Regions from separate parts of the Homo sapiens genome. Here region 1 is linked to region 2. The links come from fine-mapping of genetic effects on gene expression. Tissue or cell type: whole blood. Region 2 holds a variant in brackets; the other region holds the start of a gene. All regions are shown on one strand. Distances are from middle to middle.

Region 1 (10,767 bases), 50 kb after region 2:
ATGTGACCCAATCACATGATATCAAACCACAGTCCATCTGTTCAGAGAACTCTGTGTTACGTAAGCCATGACCAAGGAAGAACTGCAAAAGGCAAGAGGTGTGTCGACATTTGCAAGGGGCTCTGTGGTTTGAAGAGACACGTTCTCACATCAGAAGGGCCATCCATAGGATAATGGCATTTTCAAAATTCCATTTATTACACATGAACATATTTGGTGCAATAAAATGACACTACAAGAATGGTGTTGAGTCCCTGTAACTGCTCAACTAAGGCCTAGAACCTTTTGACAGGGGTCTTCCCTACATGAGCGGCCCTCCTCACAGGAACAAGATTTATCTTCCTCTTGATTATTTTTATGTCAATTCCTCTCTTAATTTCAACAACAAAGCGGATCATCTAATATTCTAAACCAAAGCCTTCTAACTACACCCCAATTCAATTAACTGTACTTACTCAAGACCATCTTCCAAACTACTATAGGCCTACTTTTCTCAATCAATAAGTATATACCAGGTCCTTTTATCAGCAATTAAAAAAAAATTGACCTTTTCCTTGAGAACTTTAAGGCTTTAATCATTCCCCCTCCCTTCCACCTTTAGAATTCACTTTTCATAAATTCTGTGAAGTTCAAGGCCTACTTCACTTAAGGAAGTCACTCATCCCTTCGTGGATGCCAACCACCTATCCCAACCCTGTCCCACTCCCACCTCCAAGTCCTTCACATTTTAAAGCACCATATAGGGCACAAGATATGGAATCAGAAAATCAAAGTTCCTGTCTCTGTTCTGCCCCTGTGCCACCCTAAGAAATTCACCTGAGTCGTTTTTTCATCTGTAAATTGAAGTGATAATATACTTAGGACTTCCACCATTTGAATGCCTAGTCCTACTGGGCATCCCATAATGTTATTCTCCCTCACTCATTCCACTTTGATTACTTTTATGTTTTGTTTCCAGCTATGTACTATAGCTTTTAGGATTGGGGAAAAAATGATAGAGGTTAATACATCCAAATTCCACAGTACAGAATAAGGAACCTAACTCTGAAGAGTAACTTGCCAGTCAGTCAGTAAAAGCCTTGTTTCCTCCCTTGGAGTAGGCCCCAGGACAGTTGGGGACACAACTTCAAAAGAACTTTCACACTCATCAAATCCCCCTCTGAATTCTACCCACCCTTCAAAGTCAGTGTAAGTCCTAAAGTGTCCAAGAAGCCTCCCCCAATCATTCCAGCTTACACTAATCATTTCCCTTTTTGAATACTAATGCCTCCCTATAGAAATGATATTAAAAATATTTAACAACTGGCACTACAAGGGTACCAACCAATCAGAAAGGATGTTTAACCAAAACACACATGGCCCAGTGGGAACTGCTTATTGAACATCAGTCCTGCTCTTTAGCAACAACACAGAATAGCAACCTCAAACTCAAATACCACTTTCTCATGTGATCTTCACAATCTCATGAATTAGGCAAAAGTAGGTATTGCCCCATTTTCTGCATAACTGCTGGTGAAGGTAGGACAAATAACCAATTGCTTTCAACACGCCATACAACTTTTCCTGATTATTTATACGGAATTACAAGTTAATATTGCATAAACTGGACTTACATAAAACAGTATAAATATTAAAGGAATGCTCAAATAGAAATCAACAAGCATTTATGTGGAATAGAATATAAAACACAGTGCTAAGTTCTGAGGCCACAAAAGAAAGAAATGGCATGAATCTTGTCCTCTGGGTACCTATAACGCATTCAAGTAGAGTTAAGTAGCAGCACAGGCAGTAGAAATGGACAACACAAACTGTTAAGTGTTGCAGAGTTCTGGAAGACAAAGAATTCAAGAACTAAACCAGCACAGGAAGTCAGGGCTGAGAACTTCTCGCACTCCCAAAAAAAGGGGCAAAACTAAATGTGTAGTGAAAAGGCTGAACAGTCAGGAGTCAGTGAGAAAGAGAAATTGCTCGAAGGTCTGCAGTAATGAGAAATGAGATCCCTGGTAGGATACTCAGAGATGGCCCCAATCATAAGCTGCTAAGTGTTGTTCTAAGTGCTGAATACAAATGGGAAATCTTATAAACCTTCACGGGGAAGGCTGAGGAAGATTAGTTTGGCAGTAGCCATAGAAAAGCCTAGATGAGAAAAACATGGGAAAGCAACTAGATTTGGAGGATAACAGGCAGGATTAAGCTGAAGGCTGCATACCAAGAAAGGAGGAGACATTCAAGAGGCATTCATAGAAGAGTTGGATTGGGGGCACGTTTTCAAAGAAAAAAAGTTATGAAATGGCAGAAAGGAAGCAAATAGCATTCTCAGATGGGATATACATATAGACATAGTGGTACTAAACTGTGCACTAGGGATAAGGAATCAATTTCCCTAGAGAAACCTATGTTGGAGACAGAAGTTGGGCAGAGAACATTAAAACATACTCAGAACATAAAAAGGTGCAAGTCTTTAAAAGGGAAGCCAAGTTACAGAGGAAATAAAAAGCATTTGACCTTTTTCAGAATGTTTTTTAAGGGTGGACTGAGGCATCATCATAACCAACAGGGGAGGCAGACAAGCTGAGGCAGTCTGGGCTTAGAGTAATAAGCACCTGGACAGCTTTGTATTTTGTGCATACCATGGAGACTGTAAACTCCTCCAGGACATGGACTGAGCAATGTTCTGTGTCTTCAACTAAGTCCACTACTGTTACTTGAATACATGAACGCTTCTTGTGCTACTTCTGGTGGAAAAGAGTGCACTGTGTTATTCAAGTTAATAGCGGTGTGGAAATGTTACCTGTGTTTCATGCCTAACTATACTGATTCTCCCAAATGTCCACACAGTTATCCTGCCTTCCTCCCTAGGCCAATGTCAAAAATCCATTGTTTCCTCTAATGCAGGCCCACGTGAAGGGACTCAACAATGTGCTAAGAGTCGGAATGAAGCCTATCTGATACTCAAATCATGAGGACAGAATCCAAAGTGGATAATAAAGACCAATTGCTCATCAGACGACTGAAGAAGAAAAATGGGCTACGCCAGATAGTATGATGTATACATATTTATATATATATATGACATACAGGTTTGGGAAACTGAGATCTGAGTGAAAATCCTAGCTTTAGCACTTAAGTTATTGGGTACTTAACGTGTCTGTACCCCACTTTGCACATCTGTAAAGTGGGGCAAATGCCACTACTCCTGGGAGTTTACTTGTGGTGATTAAATAATGTAATTATACAATAGTGTATGCATTTACATCGTAGTAATGCACAATACATAGACGGTAGCTATTAGGACTGATTATAATCGTCACCGTCAGTCTTGATTTTTTAAAAAAATTTCAACATCTTTTGTCCAGTTTCAGAAACAGAAATGTACTTTCACTGCATTTTAGTTGCTAACACTGAGGCTGTGTATTTTAGCTTCTAGTGTCTCAGTTCAGCTGCTAACGAAGTTTTTCACTCATCCCTTTGTGGATACCAACCACCTACCCCAACCTGATTTACTATTTTGAAAAATCCAGCCAACAGTCTTCCTTGAAAACCAGCTATACAGATGTCTGAATCAAACTATTAACTGTCACTCAAGAAAAGGAACAACGTGAGTGATGTTCCTTCGAGGAAATAAAAAGCGTTTAATCAATTCACAGTCGTTCCCAAAATTTCCAAAACCCGCAGAATGAGCAAACGTTCAAGTTTCCACTATGAAAACAATCCGTAGCCGTCTGGTTACTGGACTCACTTCAACACTCCCCAGACGCACGAAAGAAGAAACATTCCGCGCATCTCCGCGCTTCCTTCTTCTCACACAAAGCCCCCCTGGCTGGAGGAGCAGCCCCTTCCAGCAGGGTCGGCTCGGGTCGAGCCGGGCGGGAGTCAGGGCGGCCTGCGGACCCAGGGGTCTCACCACACGTCGCCCCCGACTCCCACTGGACGAAGCCCTAGAGGCTCGGAGCTCACACCCCGCCCGGGAGCCGCCTTCCACCCCAACCTCAAACCCCGCCCCGGGTTCGGCAGCCTCTGGCACGGACCCTCTTGGGGCGGGGGTCCCCAGAACAAGGTCACGCCGTGCCCAGGGGGCGGCGGCGGGCAGCCACGGCTCTGCCAGTCCCCGCCGGCCTCGCACTCTCCGCCCCTGGCCCTCGCCCACTCACACCCCAGAGGGCAGCCCCGGACCTCGGACGACTCCGCCCGACTCCACCTCCCCGGGGAGTCCCGAGCGGGGCGGCCTCGGGCAGCCGGACACGTCCGCCCGCGCCCGGACACACGCCCCTGCCCCGCCTCCGCTCCCCGCTTGCGGTTCGCCCGGCAGCCGCCGAGCCGCGCGGCGCCACGAGAGCCCGGCCCGGGCCCCGGCGCCGCCACCTGCGCCCCCGGCCCCGCGCCATGTTTGAGAAAGAGCAGGAGCGAGCCAGAGGCCGGGTCCGGCCCGCGCGCCCCGCAGTCGCCCGCCCGCCGCGCCGCCGCTCACCCGTCGCCCCCGGGAGCAGCGCCGCCGCCGCCGCCGCCGCCGCCGCCAGCACGAGGAGGAGCAGCCGGGGACGCGGAGCAGCGACCGCCGCCTCCATGGTCCCGCCGCCACCGCCTGTGGCCCGGCCCGGCCCGGCCGCGCCGCTGCCTCACCCCAGCAAACCTCGCCTCGCCCCACCTCCCTAGCCGCCGCGGCGGCCTCGCTCCGGCCCTTTGTAACTGCTCGGAGGACGCGCGTCCATTGGCTGCCGGGCTCCCGCCGGCCCCGCCTCCCCGCCGCCGCGAGCTGCCAAGCGGGACCCAGCCGGGAGCCCCGCCTGCGGGCCCGCCAGGCAGCCAATCCGCAGCCGCGAGCGCCGGTTTCTGGCCACGCCCCACGCTCCCCGGGGGCTGGGCCGCCAGACCCCAGCCCCGGCCCGATCGGCTCCCGGCTCCGAGAGGCCGCGTGGGGGCGGGGTCTGCCAGCCCCAGCACCGCTCAGCCGCTAGCCCCGGAGGGCCGGGTAGAGCGATGGGTGTGTCTGTGTGAGTCTCTTTCGGAAAAAGGCTGTGGCCGTTCGACGCTCTTTTCTTCTAACCTCCTCTAGGCGCGGAAGATCTGGTACTGCCTCAGCCCCACCCTGACCCCATTCACAGCTCCGCATTGGCAATCCCAGCACATGCCACCCAGATCCGCTGCAGCGCCAGGCCCCTGCATCCACTTCAACTTCCCCTCTCCAAGTCCACGCATCAACTTCAGCATTCCCCCGAAGATCCCTCCTCAGTGCCCTTCACATGCGACTCACTCTCCTATTTCCTCCTGCTCCCAGCGGTCACCCCAAACCCAGCTCCCCCACCCAGTTCCAAACCCAGAAAGTCCTCAGATCCCAGCGTCAGACCCAGATCCTGAGCCCAAACACACCCCCAAATAGCCTCCCGCCTCCCTCCAGCACAGATCCAGGATGGGGATCCAAGCCGCACTCCTCTCAAACCCCTTCCCGATCCAGGTTGGAAAGGGAGGATCCCCACCCCAACCCCTCAAAGGAGGGGTTCCCCCTTCTTAGCACCCAGCTCCCGCGGGGCGGAGGGGGAGCAGTCATCATTACTTTGAGCTGTGTCTGACACTGCTGTATAATAATCCTGAGGTGTCACTAAAAACCCAAATAAACTCTACGTTTTCATTCTGAATTCCTAATTTACTGCGAGACGCTCCACCCACCTTCCCTCTGCGACGCCAAAATGAGCTCCAGATTTGTAATTCTTCCTGTCAGACTAGTCCTTTCTTCAGACACAAACACAGCCAAGGAGGCTGTTACGTAGAACAGAGAATATTTTTCCGCAGAACCTTTTAAGGAGGAAATTTTATTTTCTGTGTCATTTGAGCTTAGAATTAAATAAACCTTGATAGCAGGAATCAGAATGGTTCTGATTAATGCCAATTTGTGCACTACTTTAGAGTCACTGGGTGAGCATTTTCCCCACCTGTGAAGGCTTCCTTCCGGGAGATGAAAAGGGAAAAGGCGTGGATATTGGAGCTGGGATCTGAGACCCGCGCGCTTTCTCCCTCCTGTCTAGGACACTTACTTAAGCAAGTCAGCTAACCTTTCTGAACCTCCAACAGGCTCAGAGGCCTGCAACTTGCTCTACACCGCAGCTCCAGCAGCCTCAGCAGCAAACTCCCCTCTTGCTCAGGCTGAGGGATTCCAGAGAGATGGCTTCTGGCAGGCTCCAGTCCCAATTTGCCCTCTCAGTTCCAGTTTCTTCAATGGAGATTTGGTGGACTTTGTGCCACCTGAGGTCCCTAGACTGCCTTTTTGCTGCTCTATTTGCAATGTCTTTCATAAGATAAGAGCTAATGAGATTTTTATTGTATGAATGAATGAATGATCTCAGAAAGTGACTGTTTTTCTCTGGCCATTAGCTTCTTCATCTCTAAAATGTAAATAATAATAGTACCTACCCCGTTTATAAATAAAAGGGATTGAATCACTTGTCTTGGGCCCCTTAAATGACGTAATGTGTCTGGTACAGTGTCTGGAACATAGTAAATATTTAGCTAATGCCATTTCTTTGCCCATCCCCTTCCAGCTCTGTATGATTCTAATCAGCATGTATGTTCATGTCAGTCTGTGCCTTTGACGTACGGAGCCTAGATTAATCAGTGTTAATCACACCTCCAGTTCCTTAACATTTTCCGTGGAATTCAGTGGATACAATAGGAAGGAAAAACAGACTATTTTTAAGTTGTATCTTCCTGATACTAGGAGGAAATTTCCATGAGCCACAGATCCATAAATAAACTACACTAGAATGGAACACTAAATTATTAGTTTAAAATCATGGTTCCCAAATTGTAAAGTCTCTCCAATTACCTGGAGAGCTTGTAATAATACAGATTCCTGGGTCTCCCTCGGCCCTAGCAAGTCTGCTTCAGTTCATGTGGAGAAGGTTCAGGAATCTGCATTTGTAATAGACATCCCAGGTGATTCTGCTGCAAGTGGCACTGGGCCCGCTTCAAAAGACACTGCTTTACTTAAAATTCAGTAAATAAAAATGCATGACCTTATTTGCCTTTTGAGAAAGGTTGGATGGGCAGTAGAAAGAAGCCTCTGGCTTTGGAGGCCTACAGACCCGACTTGAAATTCTGGCTGCCACTCACTAGATGTGGGTCTGGGAACACTATTTGACTGCTTTGAGATTTAGCATCCCCCAGGGTAAAGGGAGATACTGTTGTGAGGTCTAAATGAGCTATTGCACATTAAGGAATCTGTCATAAATGTTAATTCCCTTCAGTCTTTACAGACTTACTTGTTGTTTAAAATGCTTACATGTTATTTACTCCAATGTCTTAATTTAAAGGGAAGGAAACTGAGGATCAGTTCCCCAGCAAGTCAGCTGCAGAGCTAGGACTAGGAGTCTCACTCCAGTGCCTTGTACCCTGTGTAATGTTGTCTCTTAATCTTTATGCCAAGGACATTGTTTGCTTTTCCTTTTGGATTAGTTCCTTAAGTAAGAGGATTTCTCCAAAATAGAGAGCAGAGACTGCTTGTCATCTAAACTACACCCATTCTTACATTTGCTTTATAATGGAGTCCTGTTTTTCTTTGGGAAAGCAGATCACCTAGAAAAAATATATATGTCAATTTCCCAGGCTCCTTGTACCTAGGTATGGCCATGTGACAAGAGTTCTGGCCAGTGACATGTAAACAGAAATCTACTTTCCACAAGGCGGAGCCTGTACAAAAGATACTTCCTAGTTAAAAAAAGAAGAGACTCATCATATTCTCTCTTTCTCCCTGGAACACAGTTGCAATGCCTGGAGGTACAGCAGCCATTTTGTAAACATAAAGGCGATAGCCAAAACTGAGGACTGTAGAGAGAAAAAATGGAGAGAGTCTAGGTTTTTGATAAATTTCCTGAACAGTTGCACCAGCTCTATAATGCCTATTTCTTATTATATGAGAAAAATTAATCTATTTTTTATTCACTTTGAATAACTGCACCAGCTCCATAATGCTTATTTCTTATTATATGAGAAAAATTAATCTATTTTTATTCACCTTAGAATGCTTCTATTCTGCTCATTTGTCCATCCTATTTATTGTTGCATATTTTATTTCTATCTTATTTTCTAACCTACAAGACATTATTGACTTCTGCCATTATTAGCTATTGCTAATTCTTGGTGCTCCTAACTGAAAAACAAACCACCTCAAAATTTAGTGGCTTAGAATAATAACCATATATCATCTTTCATGAGACTGTAGGACAGTTTTTCAGGTTTAGGCCAATTTATGCTGATTTCCACTGAGCTCACTTATGAGTCGGTTGTCAGGTGGAAGGGGGTGGAAGAGGGTAATGAGCTAGATCAGCTCCTCCATGTGGATTTTCATCCTCCAGCAGGCTAGCCTAGGCTTGATAACATGACATTCATTATCCAAGATAATGAATGAAAGCGTGCAAGAGCCTTGAGTCTAGGTTTAGAACTGGCACCGGCCAGGCATGGTGGCCCATGCCTGTAATCCCAGCGCTTTGGGAGGCCAAGATGGGGCGATGGCTTGAGCCCAGGAGTTTGAGGCCAGCCTGGTTAACATGGCAAAACCACTTATCTACAAAAAATACAAAAATTAGCCAGGCATAGTGGTTCACACCTGTAGTCTCAGCTACTCAGGAAGCTGAGAGGTTGGAGGATCGCTTGAGCCCAGAAAGTCAACGCTGCAGTGAGCCATGATTACACCACTGCACTCCAGCCTGGGTGACAAGAGTGAAACCCTGTCTCAAAAACAAAACAAAACAAAAAAACATCCACTGGCACAACATCACTTCTACCATATCCCATTGGTTTGGGCATGAACTGGGGCTGAGCCCAAATTCAAAGGGTGGGGAAAAAGACTCCATTTTTTTTGATAAAAAGGAACTGCAAAATCACATTGCAAAGAGGCAAGGATATCAAGAGAAAATAAGTGTGTACATGTTTACGAACACTTTTTTTTCCACCCCCATGACTCATACACCTTCTGCTAGGCCCACCTCCAACATTGGAGGTCACATTTCTTTCTTTCTTTCTTTCTTTTTAAATTATACTTTAAGTTCTGGAGTACATGGGCAGAACATGCAGGTTTGTTACATAGGTATACACGTGCTATGGTGGTTTGCTGCATCCATCAACCCATCATCTACATTAGGTATTTCTCCTAATGCTATCCCTCCCCTAGCTCCCCACCCCCGACAGGCCCCTGTGTGTGATGTTCCCCTCCCTGTGTCCCTGTGTTCTCATTGTTCAGGTCCCATTTATGAGTGAGAACATATGATGTTTGGTTTTCTGTTCTTGTGTTAGTTGCTGAGAATGATGGTTTTCAGTGTCATCCATGTCCCTGCAAAGGACATGAACTCATCCTTTTTTATGGCTGCATAGTATTCCATGGTGTATATGTGCCACATTTTCTTTATCCAATCTATCATTGGTGGGCATTTGGGTTGGTTCCAAGTCTTTGCTATTGTGAGCAGTGCCACAATAAACATACAGGTGCATGTGTCTTTATAGTAGAATGATTTATAATCCTTTGGGTATATACCCTATAATGGGATTGCTGGGTCAAATGGTATTTCTAATTCTAGATCCTTGAGGAATCGCCACACACACATTGTGTCTTCCACAATGGTTGAACTAATTTACACTCCCACCAACAGTGTAAAAGCATTCCTTTTTCTCCACATCCTCTCCAGCATCTGTTGTTTCCTGACTTTTTAATGATCGCCATTCTAACTGGCATGAGATGGTATCTCATTGTGGTATCTCACCAGTGATGATAAGCTTTTTTTCACACGTACAAACACTTTTTAACCACTTTCTCTGATCTTCGTTTTTCTTTTTACCTCTCAGACTTTCTACTTCAAATCACTGTTATTATTCCTGAAGTTTATATTTTAAAATTTCTTTTAGTGAGAGTCTACCAGTGGCAAATAATCTTAGTTGTTGTTCGACTGAAAATGTTTTTATTTAACCCTCATTTTTCAACAATGTTTTCACTGAACATAGCATTCTAGGTTGATAATTGTTTTCTCTCCACAATTGAACGTATCATTTCACTGTCTCTGCCTTCCATTGTTGTTTATGTGAAATTAGATGGTAGTCTAATGGTTTCTCCTTTGTAAGTAATCTGTCTTTTTTGTCTTTTTTTTATAAACTTCATTTTTTAGAGCAGTTTTAGGTTCACAGCAAAATTGATGTGAAATTACATAGTTCTCATGTATTCCCTGACTTCACCCACACTCACAGCCTCTCCCACTGTCAATGCCTCCTACCAGAGAGGTACGTTTGTTACAGTCAATGAACCTACGCTGTCACATCATTACCACCCAAAGTCAGTAGTTCACCTTTGTATTCACTGTTATTGTCTATGTGTTTTGATGAATATACAGTGAGAGTATCATGCAGAATATTTTCACTGCCCCACCCTCAATCACAAAGATTTCCTCCTATATGTCCTTCTTCTAGTTATTTTATAGTTTTACCTTCTTCATCTAAGTCTTTAAGCTATCTTGAATTAAATCTTACGTATGACGTGAGGTGTGAATCAAAGTTCAGTTTGTTCTATACTGACATCCAGTTGATCCAGGATAATTCATTAAGATTTGTTAAGAAAATTTCCCCAATGAACTGCATTGGTGACTGTCAAAAACCATTTGTATATTTGTGGATCTATTTATGGACTCTCTTTTTTCCCCATTGGTCTTCGGTTTATTTTAATGCCAACATCACTGACTTGATTACTATACTTTATGGTAAGTCTCAAAATCAGGTAGAACAAGTTCTCCAGCT
Region 2 (10,634 bases):
CAAAAATAAGCACTCAAACTATTTTGTTAATTTTCACGTTAGGTGCTTGGACAGGAAAATACACAGAAACCGTCTGCTTCTCTCAAGGGAAGAGAGGGAGAGCAAGAGTCCTAACTCCCTAAGGGGATTAAAACAGGAACGATGTGCAATGAAATGAGGTAAGTGATTTGGAAATGCAGCAGGGGATCAATGATTTGCCAGCAGGCAGGATGCGCAACAATAGTGGAGGAAATGCCTTCCGACCTGAGCCTTGGGGTTGATTCAAGTTAGCAAGGCAGAGGAGAGGGAAAAATGCAGTTCCAGCGAAGGGCGGAGCCTAGCAGAAAGGCAGGAAGCAGGGTGCGTCGGGACATGCAGCATGGCGGACAGATGAAGGAAGTATGGTGGGTGGCAAGAATGGTAAGGTGAGACCCGGTGCAGTGGCTCACGCCTGTAATCCCAGCACTTTGGGAGGCTGACGCGGACGGATCACCTGAGCTCAGGAGTTCGAGACTAGCCTGGGCTACACGCTGAAACCCCGTATCTACTAAAAAATACAAAAATTAGCCTGGGGTGCTGGCTGGTGCCTGTAGTCCCAGCTACTCGAGATGCTGATGGGCGAGAATCACTTGAACCCGGGAAAGTCGAGGTTGCCCGGAGCTGTGATCGCACCACTGCTCTCCAGCCTGGGTGACAGAGAGTCCCTGTTTAAAGAAAAAACAAAAAACAAACAACAACAACAAAAACTGGCAAAGGCGAGTTTTACTTTTTTTTCCTTTAACAGACGTATTGAGATATAGTTTACACACCATAAAATTTCCCCATTTCATGTGCACAATGTTTAGTAAATTTACGGAGTTCTGAATCCATCACCAAAATCAAGCTTTGAAACATTCTGTCACCAGTAGAAGGTCGTAACTGCAAGTTGTCCAGATTCCTGGCGTTTTGAACAGAGTTGAACAAAACGCCCAGCAAAGCAAAGAAAGAATGAAGCAACAAAAGAAGGAAAGCAGGGATGTATTGAAAACAAAAGTACACTCCACAGTGTGGGAGCAGCCTGAGCAGCTACTCAAGAGCCCCCAATACAGAATCTTCTTTGGTCCAAATACCCCCCAGAAGTTTCCCATTGGCCACTTCATGCATACTTCATGTAAATGAAGTGGTAGCCCTCAATCAGTCTGATTGGTTGCAGAAAGCAGCCAACCAGAGGCTGAAGTTACAAAGGTCACACTCCTGTGCAAACATCTGATTGGTAAAGGCAACCAATCAGAGGCTACGGTGAAGTTACAAAGTTATACTTCTGTGCAAATGAAGACTGACTAAGCCTGCAATCAGTCTGGTTGATTGTGGACGGCAACCATTCAGAGGCTGGAGCTAAGTCACAAAGTTGCAAACGAAGACTCCACTGGTACTCAGTCTGATTTGTTGCAGACAGATTTCCCATCTGCAGCCTCTGGTCCTTTTTTTACTTAGGCGTGGAAAGTTAGGGTTTTCCTTTCAATTTAGTTCTAGGAAGTCAGGGTGAAAGAGCCTTAGGTTCCCTGCCTCCAGACCCTATTCTCCTGCCTCAATTCCCATCATCCGAAAAAGCTCCCTTGTGCCTTTCTGCAACCTTTTCATCCCACTTCCTTCACTTAGCATGAGGGTTTTGAGGTCATCCACATTATAACAAGGATCAAGCAGTCTTATAAACCATGGTATAAATACCTTACCTCTTAAATATCAATTCACCAGATGATGGACATTTAGCTTGTTTCCATTTTTGACTATTAGGAATTATGCTGCTGTGAATATTCACCTACAGGTCTTTGTGTGGACATATGTTTTAATTTTTCTTGGATTAGAGTTGCCAGATTTAGCAAGTTAAAATACAGGAAGCCGAGTTAAATTTAAATGTCAGATAAACAATACTTTTTTTTAGTATAAACATGTTCCATGCAATATGTGGGACAAACTTATACTAAAAAATTGTTTTTATCTGACACACAAATTTAACTGAGCCTCCTGTATTTTATCTGGCACCTCTACTGATACCTAGAAATGATATTACTGGGTTACATAATAGGTTTCTATTTAACCTCTTAAGATACTGCAATCTGTTTTCCAAAGGGACTGTTTACATTCCAGCAATGTGTGAGATTCATCTTTTTCTCATCTTTATTGACACTTGGCTATCTGTCTTTTTAAAAACTATAATCATTTGAGTGTGTGAGGAGTGGTTTCTCATTGTGGTTTTAATTTCATCTAGTCTTTATAAAGAATTATGTTTATTAGCCATTCATATATCTTCTTGGGAAAATGTCAAATCTTTTGACCAGTTTTTATTTTTACTTTTTTTGTCACAGTCCTACACATAATTCATGGTATTTAGAGCTTCACTTTATCAACTGTTGCCGAATTACCATTTAAACATTAATACCCAAATACAGAATTTAGAATTAACTCTACCATACCCAATCTCTGAGCAATGAATTTGTTCACCAATTTTTAATTGGGCCATTTGTATTCTTATTGAATTGTAAGAGTTCTTTATATATTCTGAATACAAATCTCTTATCAGATGTATGATTTGCAAATACTTTATGCCAGTCTTTGGCTCATCTTTTCATTCTCTTGTTTTTTAAAGCCCCAAATATTTTAATTGTGGTGAAGTCCAATTTATCAACTGGTTTTTAATAAATTTTGCTTTTGAAGTCCTATTAAAATCTTTGCCTAACCTAACATCACAAAGATTTTCTCCTGTTTTCTTCTAGAAGTTGTATAGCTTTAGCTCTTACCTTTAGGTGCATAATGAGCTGAGGGTCTAATTAACTTTCTTCCTTTTTTCCTTCCTTTTAAAATACAGATATCCAATTGTCTCAGCACCATTTATTGAAATGACTGTCTTTTCTCCTGTTGAATTATCTTTGCACATATCTTGAAAGTCCGTTGGTCGTCTGTGAGGGCTTATTTCTGGACTCTTAATTCTGTCCTGTTGCTGTATATGACTGACTATCCTTGTGTCAATAAACAGTCTTGATTATTGTTGCTTTACAGTAAGTTTTGAAACTGGGTAAGGCAATTCCTCCAATTTTGTGCATTTCAAAATCATTTAGGATCTTTTAGACATTTTGCATTTCCATGTTAAGTTTTAGGATCAGCTTGTGAATTTAAAGAAAAACCTTTCTGGAATATCGCTAGGGATTGAGTTGAATCTATAGAACAATTTGGGGAGAATTGCCATCATAACACTGTTGAATTCTCTAATCCATGAGCATGGAAGTTCTCATTTAGATCCTTTGATTTCTCTCGGCAATATTTTTTCAATTAAATAAATGTATTATTATATTCTTTTTGACGCTATTCTGAGTTTACTTTTGAAGGTATCGTTCATTGCTAATATAATGTCAATTTTTAATATTGATTGTGTATCCTACAACCTTGCTTGCTGAATTAGGTCTTGTAGCTTCAAAAAAAAAATTTTTTCCGGTGGATTCTTTAGAATCTGACAGGTAATATTTCTTAATAAAGACAGTTTTACTTTTTTCCCCAACCTAATGTCTTTCTAGTCTTTTTGTAGGGAGAGGGAACAGGGACTGGACAGAACCTCCATGACAACATTGAATAGAAATGATGAAAGGATGTTCTCGACTTGTTTCTGATTTAAGGAGAAAAGTATTCTTTCACCATCAAGTATGTTGGCTGTGAGTTTTTTATCGATGCCCTTCACTAGGTTGAGGAAGTTGCCTTCTATTTCTAGTTTGCTGAGTTTTCATCACGAATGGGTGCTGAATTCTGTCAAATATTCTTTCCTTTGGCTATTTAGTTATTATAATAATATGGGTTTTATTGTTTCTTCTATTAGTATGGTATAATACATTGATTTTTTTGATGTTAAATGAAGCTTACAGTCCTAGGATATGGCCCATTTGGTCCTGGTGTATAAATCCTTTTATCTGTTGTTGGATTCAGTTTCCTAATATTGTGTTTTAAGTATTTTTGCAGCTATCCCCACTGGCTTTAATACTTCTAAAGTATAGGTATTTAAAAGTGTAAATTTCCCTTTAAACAGTGCATTAGCTGTACACTATAAATTTTGACATGCTGTACTTTTTCATTTGTTTAAAATTTTCTAACTTCCTTTGTGACTTCTTCAATACATGGGTTTTTTAGAAATGTGTGATTCAATTTCCGAATATTTTGGGATTTGCAATTTTCTGTTGACTTCTAATTTCAACATGGTTGGAGAACATACTTCCTACTATTTCATCCCTTTTAATTCACTGAGACTTCTTTTATGAAATAGCATGTGGTTTCCCCTGGAGAATGTTCCATGTGCACTAGCAAAGAGTGTGCATTCTGTTCGTGGTGGGTGGTGGTAAATGTTTGGACAATTTGGCTGACAGCATTCTTTTGTATGCCTGTGATTCTCAATTGAGTCATTCTATCAATTATTGTAGGTGTCAAAATCTCCAAATATTATTAAATTGTCCATTTCTCCTCTCAATTCTATCATTTTTCTCGTTATTTTGGGGTCCTGTTAGGTGCATATACATATGTTAACTGTTATATCTGATATATTGGCTTTTTAAAATATCCTATATTTCCAGTAATATTTGTCTTAAAGCCCACTGTACTGATATAGACATTCCAGCTCTCTTACGATTACTGTTTGCATGTTATATTTTTCCATACTTTCACTTTACAGCTATTGGTCTTTGAATCTACAGTGTGCCTCTGTGAACACCATATAGTTTTTTCTTTTTAAATCCATCCTGACCATCTCTACCTTTTAACTATTTAGTCCATTCACATTTAATGAAATTATTGGCATGATTACTTATGGCTGCCATTTTGCTATTTGTTTTCCAAATGTCTATCATTTTGCTTCTTTCTTTCTGCCTTTTGTGTTAAATATTTCTTGGTGTACCATTTTGTTTTTTTTAATTTATTTTTAAATTGATGCTTCAGTGGTTACTCCAGGCTCTACAGCATGCATTTCAATTTATTACAATCATCTTCAAATTAGGACTAATTAATTCTAATAAGATACATCTTTGTCCCAATAGAGTTCCATTTCCTACCCACTCCTTTGTTATTAATATACACTGCACCTATATTGTAAACCCAACAGTATGGTGATGTAATTACTATATAGTCTTATGCTACTGAAAGATAACTTACATTTATTTTGGTAGGCAAATTATTTCCCCAAGATTCCCATTCTCTAGTTATTTAATCAAATACTAATCTTGGTACTGCAGTGAATGCACTTTGCAGGTAAAACTGAGGTTACTAAATAGGGTAATTATCCTGGATTATCCAGATGGCCCCCTGAGTAATCACATGGCCCCTTAAAAGCAGAAGAGGGAAGCAGAAGCATTAGAGAGATGCAGTGGAAGAGACAGTGGAGAGATGAGGCAGAAGGGGAGATCCGAGAAAAGTGCAAGGATGATTCAACCCATTGCTGCTGGTTTTGATGATGGAGGAGGGAACCACGAGCCAAAGAATTTGAGTGGCTTCTAGAAACTGACAACCACCCCTGGCCAACCTGTCTTACAACCATATGGAGCTGAATTCTGCCAACAACCTCAATGAGCTTGGAAGCCTATTCATCCGAGCCTCCAGAAAAGAATGTTGCCCAGCCAATGCCTTCATTTTGACCTTTTAAAATATGGAGCAGAGAACCATCTGAGCTATGCCTAGACTTCTGAATTATGGAATTCTGAGATCATAAATAGGTGTTGCTTTAAGCCAGGGCATTTGTAGTAATTTATGGCAGCTATACAATCATACAGTCTTTGCTAGTTGTACATATATCCACCATTTCTGGTGCTCTTCATTTCATCCTGTGGATTCAGGTTACCATCTGGTGTCATTTATTTTCTGTGTGAAGGATTTAGTATTTCTTGTAAGGCAGACGTCCATAGGCAACAAATTGTCTTAGTATTTGTCTGGGAATGTCTTTAATTTCACTTTTTTTCCAACTTTCAACAAAAGCTTCATATCCTGGTGATGTCTTTGTTATAAGGAAAAAAAAAAATCCCTAAATCCAGCCTTCAAATTGAAGTAACTATCTTTAATGTGAGAGCAATCCTATTCACAAAGCCCCTCCCCAGAGTCAATCAAGGGTTTGGGGACCACATCTCATCATTTTTCCAGTTCTCTTGTAAGCCAAGTTTTCACCCCCAGGAGACTAACAAATGTGCTGACCCAAAGGCAACAGAGATCACCTGTAGACAGGTCCATCATGCCCCAATGGAAGACCCACACCCCTAAGCATGTGGAGAAAAGCCCCCAGGCACAGAGACACACCTGCAGACAGGAGGGCACTCCCCGAACACGCTATAATATTGTAACTTGCACTAGGCAGGGTTAGAAAACTTCTAAAGACTCTTGTAACTCAAAGGTTCTAGTTGCCATCTACAGCAACTACATATGGCATGACTCATTCCAACGTATACACTTTATTTTAAAATATGCCACTGGCACTTGGGAAAAATGTAATTTATTTGCACTGCTTCCATTCTTCTACT[G/A]TAGTGTTAGGACTTAACATAAGCATCACTCTTCTATTTCCTATTTACATTCTTTTGGAATATTACTACAAATACAATATACAATTTAAAAAAACTTATGGGGAAACACAGCTTATGTTTTTTTCTCCTCTTTACAGGCTTCTCAGTATCATTCGACTTCAATGGAAATTTATATGGACATTTTCTGTACATATCTTAAAAGGCAGAGATTACACTGATAAAGCCTAAAGAATCCTGCACAAATACAATACAGAAAACAGAAAGTACAGACGATGTTATTTGGGGTACAAATATAAACAATACAGTACCATTTGAGTAACTGAGCAACATAATACCCATACTTTATAGAAATAAAACTGCAAACCTGGAGAATGCTCTGACAAATATTAAACATTATATACACAATGAGGTAAATGTACCTTGGTCTCTTGAGAGGTAATTTAAGTTTAAAGCAATTGACATTTTGAAGCATCTCCTTAACATATGAAGAAATATCAAACACCCTATTCCGTTGGCACAACGTGAAAAAGGGGTATCAAAACATGGTTCATGATATTCAGTTCACAAATCTTGTTAAAAAATAAAAACAAATTCACTGAAGTTCCTTTTAAGTTGTAATAAACAGGTTGAATGTTATTAACCATATTTTTAGAAGTTTACATTTACAAACAAGATTGCATAATGGGATTGAAAAGTTTAATGTACTGACAATCATCTTAATGTCCTAGAAGTCCAGCACTCTTGAGAGGGCCCATGGGTATTCCAGTAATCCAAAACAGAGACAAGAAGCTGCAGTACATGTCCAAAGATAATCCTTAGTATCTCAAAATATCTGAGCTGGCATTTTCTGCCAAAGTGTTAACAGAACCATTATTTGGAATCACTACCATTTGGAGCCAGAACACTGCCATGGTCAAGAAACAGTTGACTTACGATTCTTCCAGTGCAAGAATAAAAATAAGCTTTTGATGATGTGTCTAATGGGATAGTGATTTTGTTGTGCACTCTAACGATCTCTTTGCCATCTTGTTTTAATCTGACAGTTCTCAGACATAGAGAAAAAAGGTAACTCATGCATGTACTACAAAATCGCCAAGTGACCACTTACATTTTGTAATAAAACCTGAAATCTGGGATTCTTGATGGCCATGGCACTGTACACCAACTCAAGGCACTTCTTGAGCACTATCATTATTACAGCAGAATTACAGGCTCAGCTCTTCAGACCTTACCCTGTCTTATAGGCGATACAACTGGCCACTGTTTCTGGCACAACTCCACTGCCACAGGAGCCACCTTGCTGCCATCCCACTCCTCATCCATGGCTGAAGTCAAAGCAGGGGCATCCCAAGCCTCATCTGCTCAATCTCCAAACTTGGAGACCCCTCCCTTCCACCTCTAATGACTGAAGGAAATGGAAGTGGGTCCCACAACTTCCATCAGCCGTTTTACTCTAGGTCTCCAGAGCAGCCTTCAGTCAAACGGCTGTGGGGGAGGCAACGGTCTCTGCGTCAGGGACCAGCAAGCAGGAGAGCAGGTTCCAAGAAACAGCTGGAGACAGAAAGGATGGACCAGGGATGTCTATGCCTCACTAAGTCGTATTTCCCCCATCCCCATTTCTCCTGGCTACTGACAAAATGAATATGGACGCACAATTTACCAGAAGATGTTTTAGCCACGTTGAATCTTGGAAGGTGAGCATCCTAGGATGGGCAGTATAAACAACTGTGTTTTTAAATGACAAAATTATTACTCTAATCAAATTTATCTGCAGTTATCGACAGTAATCATGATCCATCCCACCTTTTAAGTTTCTTTCATTTTCAATATCAGCCAATTGTGGTTTATCAAACCATCCCTAGCCAAAAAAGGAATTAACTGCAGTAATACGTAAAGTCAATTTAGAACTAAACTCCAACTTTAAAAAAATTCCCTGATTCATCAAAAGTACATTTTATCCACTTAGGTAAGAAAAGTATAATTGTAACTCAATCTTTGATTCAATAAAAAATATCTTCAGCAAAAGTGGATAACCTTACATGAAAGTGAGAAATCATGTATTACAACTTTAAATCAGACAACTTTTGGTATATTCTTAAAATTATATAAAAATAGTTTTAGTGATAAAATGCATTGGTCCCCTGGATTTCATAAAGCAGATCTGGTAGGCTTAGAAATGGCCCAAAAACAACAACAAAAAAAAAAAAACAAAAAAAAAACCCCCACAAAAAAAGTACCTGATCACAGAATTAGAGATTATTATTAAACAAGTAATACAACACAACTATAAAAACAAACCTCTCAAACTCATTCATTTGCTTCAATGAAATTATGGTAACTACAGAAAAAAACTCAACTTTGTAGTCAAAATAGTAACCTCTAAGCATTTTTCCCATGATGTTTTTAAACACATGAAATTGACACTAAATTCCTATGTAATATGTCACTCATTCTAAAATTACTTTGGTTTTAAGATCAAATAGTCTTTCAAATTTATTCTACGTATAAGAGATAAGACATTATCAGAATGCAACTCATTCAGTGTAAATGGCCACTTTCTCTTCCTGACCAAAATACTGTATGGGTTACTCTGACCCTGTATCGGGGAACTGATAGCACTATAAAGTCGAAGTCTTGCCTCAGAGCTATGATAGTTTTTTCTCCCCTCAGAATAAGATCACAGTGATAAAAGGACTTCGAAAACTGTAAAAGCCCTGCAGAGACTTCATAGCATTGGAAGTAAAAACCAGTTATTATAAGCTAGTTTCAACTTAATGTAAGAAGACCATGACAAGTTTGCTTTCAATATTTGACCAAAGACATCTGTAAATGGAGAAAAACCTATACTCAGAATGTTCTTTAGCTACCACCTCTCCCAAGTAACAAGGGTGCACTGAATGCATTACATAAATTACATGTAAGCAGTTGCAATGTACGCACACATAAGGAAACACTGAATTAAAAGCTGCCTTCCTCAAAGTGTAGTGAGACCTCAAAACCACACTAGCTCTAACCTCAGTTACAAAGACAGAGGATCCACCGAACGTTTACTCCTACATACATAACAAATGTGACTTTCTTGCACATCTGTTATCTATTCAAATTATTAACTACCTTCGCCTTCCTAGAAAAAGGCCTATTATTTAATATTAACCATATTCTAATTTTAAATGTAATTCATGTCTTAAAAAATAAGTCTTTGAACAGATAAAGAAAAAAATGGCTTACAGAATACCACATAACTTTTCACAAGCAGCTAGACAGACTTTCCCTTTTAGAAAAATTAGTCTGTATGCTACAAATATTAAAGTACTATAAGCATCTAGAGTGCCACTTGATTTTTTAAAAGTATACTTAGACAACACAATTAAAATGCAAAAGCTTGATGTGAGAATATTCAAACATGACCATGCTAATAATTTACTAATTAATGCCACTTCATTTCTTTAGTGGCTTAAGCACATTTTGGTAGGAGAAAGGCATTTTCAGAATAGAATACCAAATGACATACCACAAAAACCCTTCCAAAAACAAAACAGAAAAAGTTTGGGTTACCCAGATAAATAAGCTTTTTGAATTCAAACACTATAGGTTTTAACATAGAGACTTTCAGCAATTCTACTCATTTCCATTAGAAAGACACAGAAGTGGCACTTACTGGTATAGTACAATCCCATTTTGAAGGCATGTAATGTTCTGAATAAGTGAAAGAACAATAATAGTATACAAAATACAATTGCATGAATTATGTTCCTCACTACTATATGAGGTCATTTTTAGACTCAAGATAAGAGTTTTATAAGTGTTAGTTTTAAGATCCTGAAAAACTATAGAACAGTACATTCAAAGTCTGAATCAAGGAAACTCTAGTGGTTCAGAATCCTCTGAGAATGTACTAACCAGGAGTAAATCACTTTCTTTAGTAATAAGACATGTTTCATTGTAATTCAGCAATCCAACTCCTTTGCCCTTAAAGATGATCTCCAGCACAGCAGAGTTACCTAAAGTTAAGACCAGCAATCATCTTTTTAAAAAACAAGTTTTGTTAATAAAAAATAAAGGTAGACTACACATTTTCTGTCCTGGGAAAGAAGCGTTCATAGTGCACAGAAAGGACCCACATGGCTGTTTCCTGGGTCC

The links.
Region 1: TGFBR1 starts here. The variant in region 2 is fine-mapped to the expression of TGFBR1 in whole blood (TOPMed, PIP above 0.99). The same link has a PIP of 0.9 or more in T cells, blood mononuclear cells and monocytes.

Annotation. Positions count from the first base shown.
Region 1 is chr9:99,099,004-99,109,770 of GRCh38, reverse strand. TGFBR1 (transforming growth factor beta receptor 1) reads right to left here and starts at 4,658. Exons shown (of 9, transcript NM_004612.4): 1 at 4,469-4,658. The coding sequence starts at 4,565. RefSeq lists silencers at 3,931-4,440, 4,531-5,130.
Region 2 is chr9:99,149,466-99,160,099 of GRCh38, reverse strand. TGFBR1 (transforming growth factor beta receptor 1) reads right to left here. Exons shown (of 9, transcript NM_004612.4): 9 at 5,908-10,634. Among named protein-coding and RNA genes, the nearest start is that of TGFBR1, 50 kb to the right of the region's middle. The variant G/A (reference allele first, on the strand shown) is at 6,495.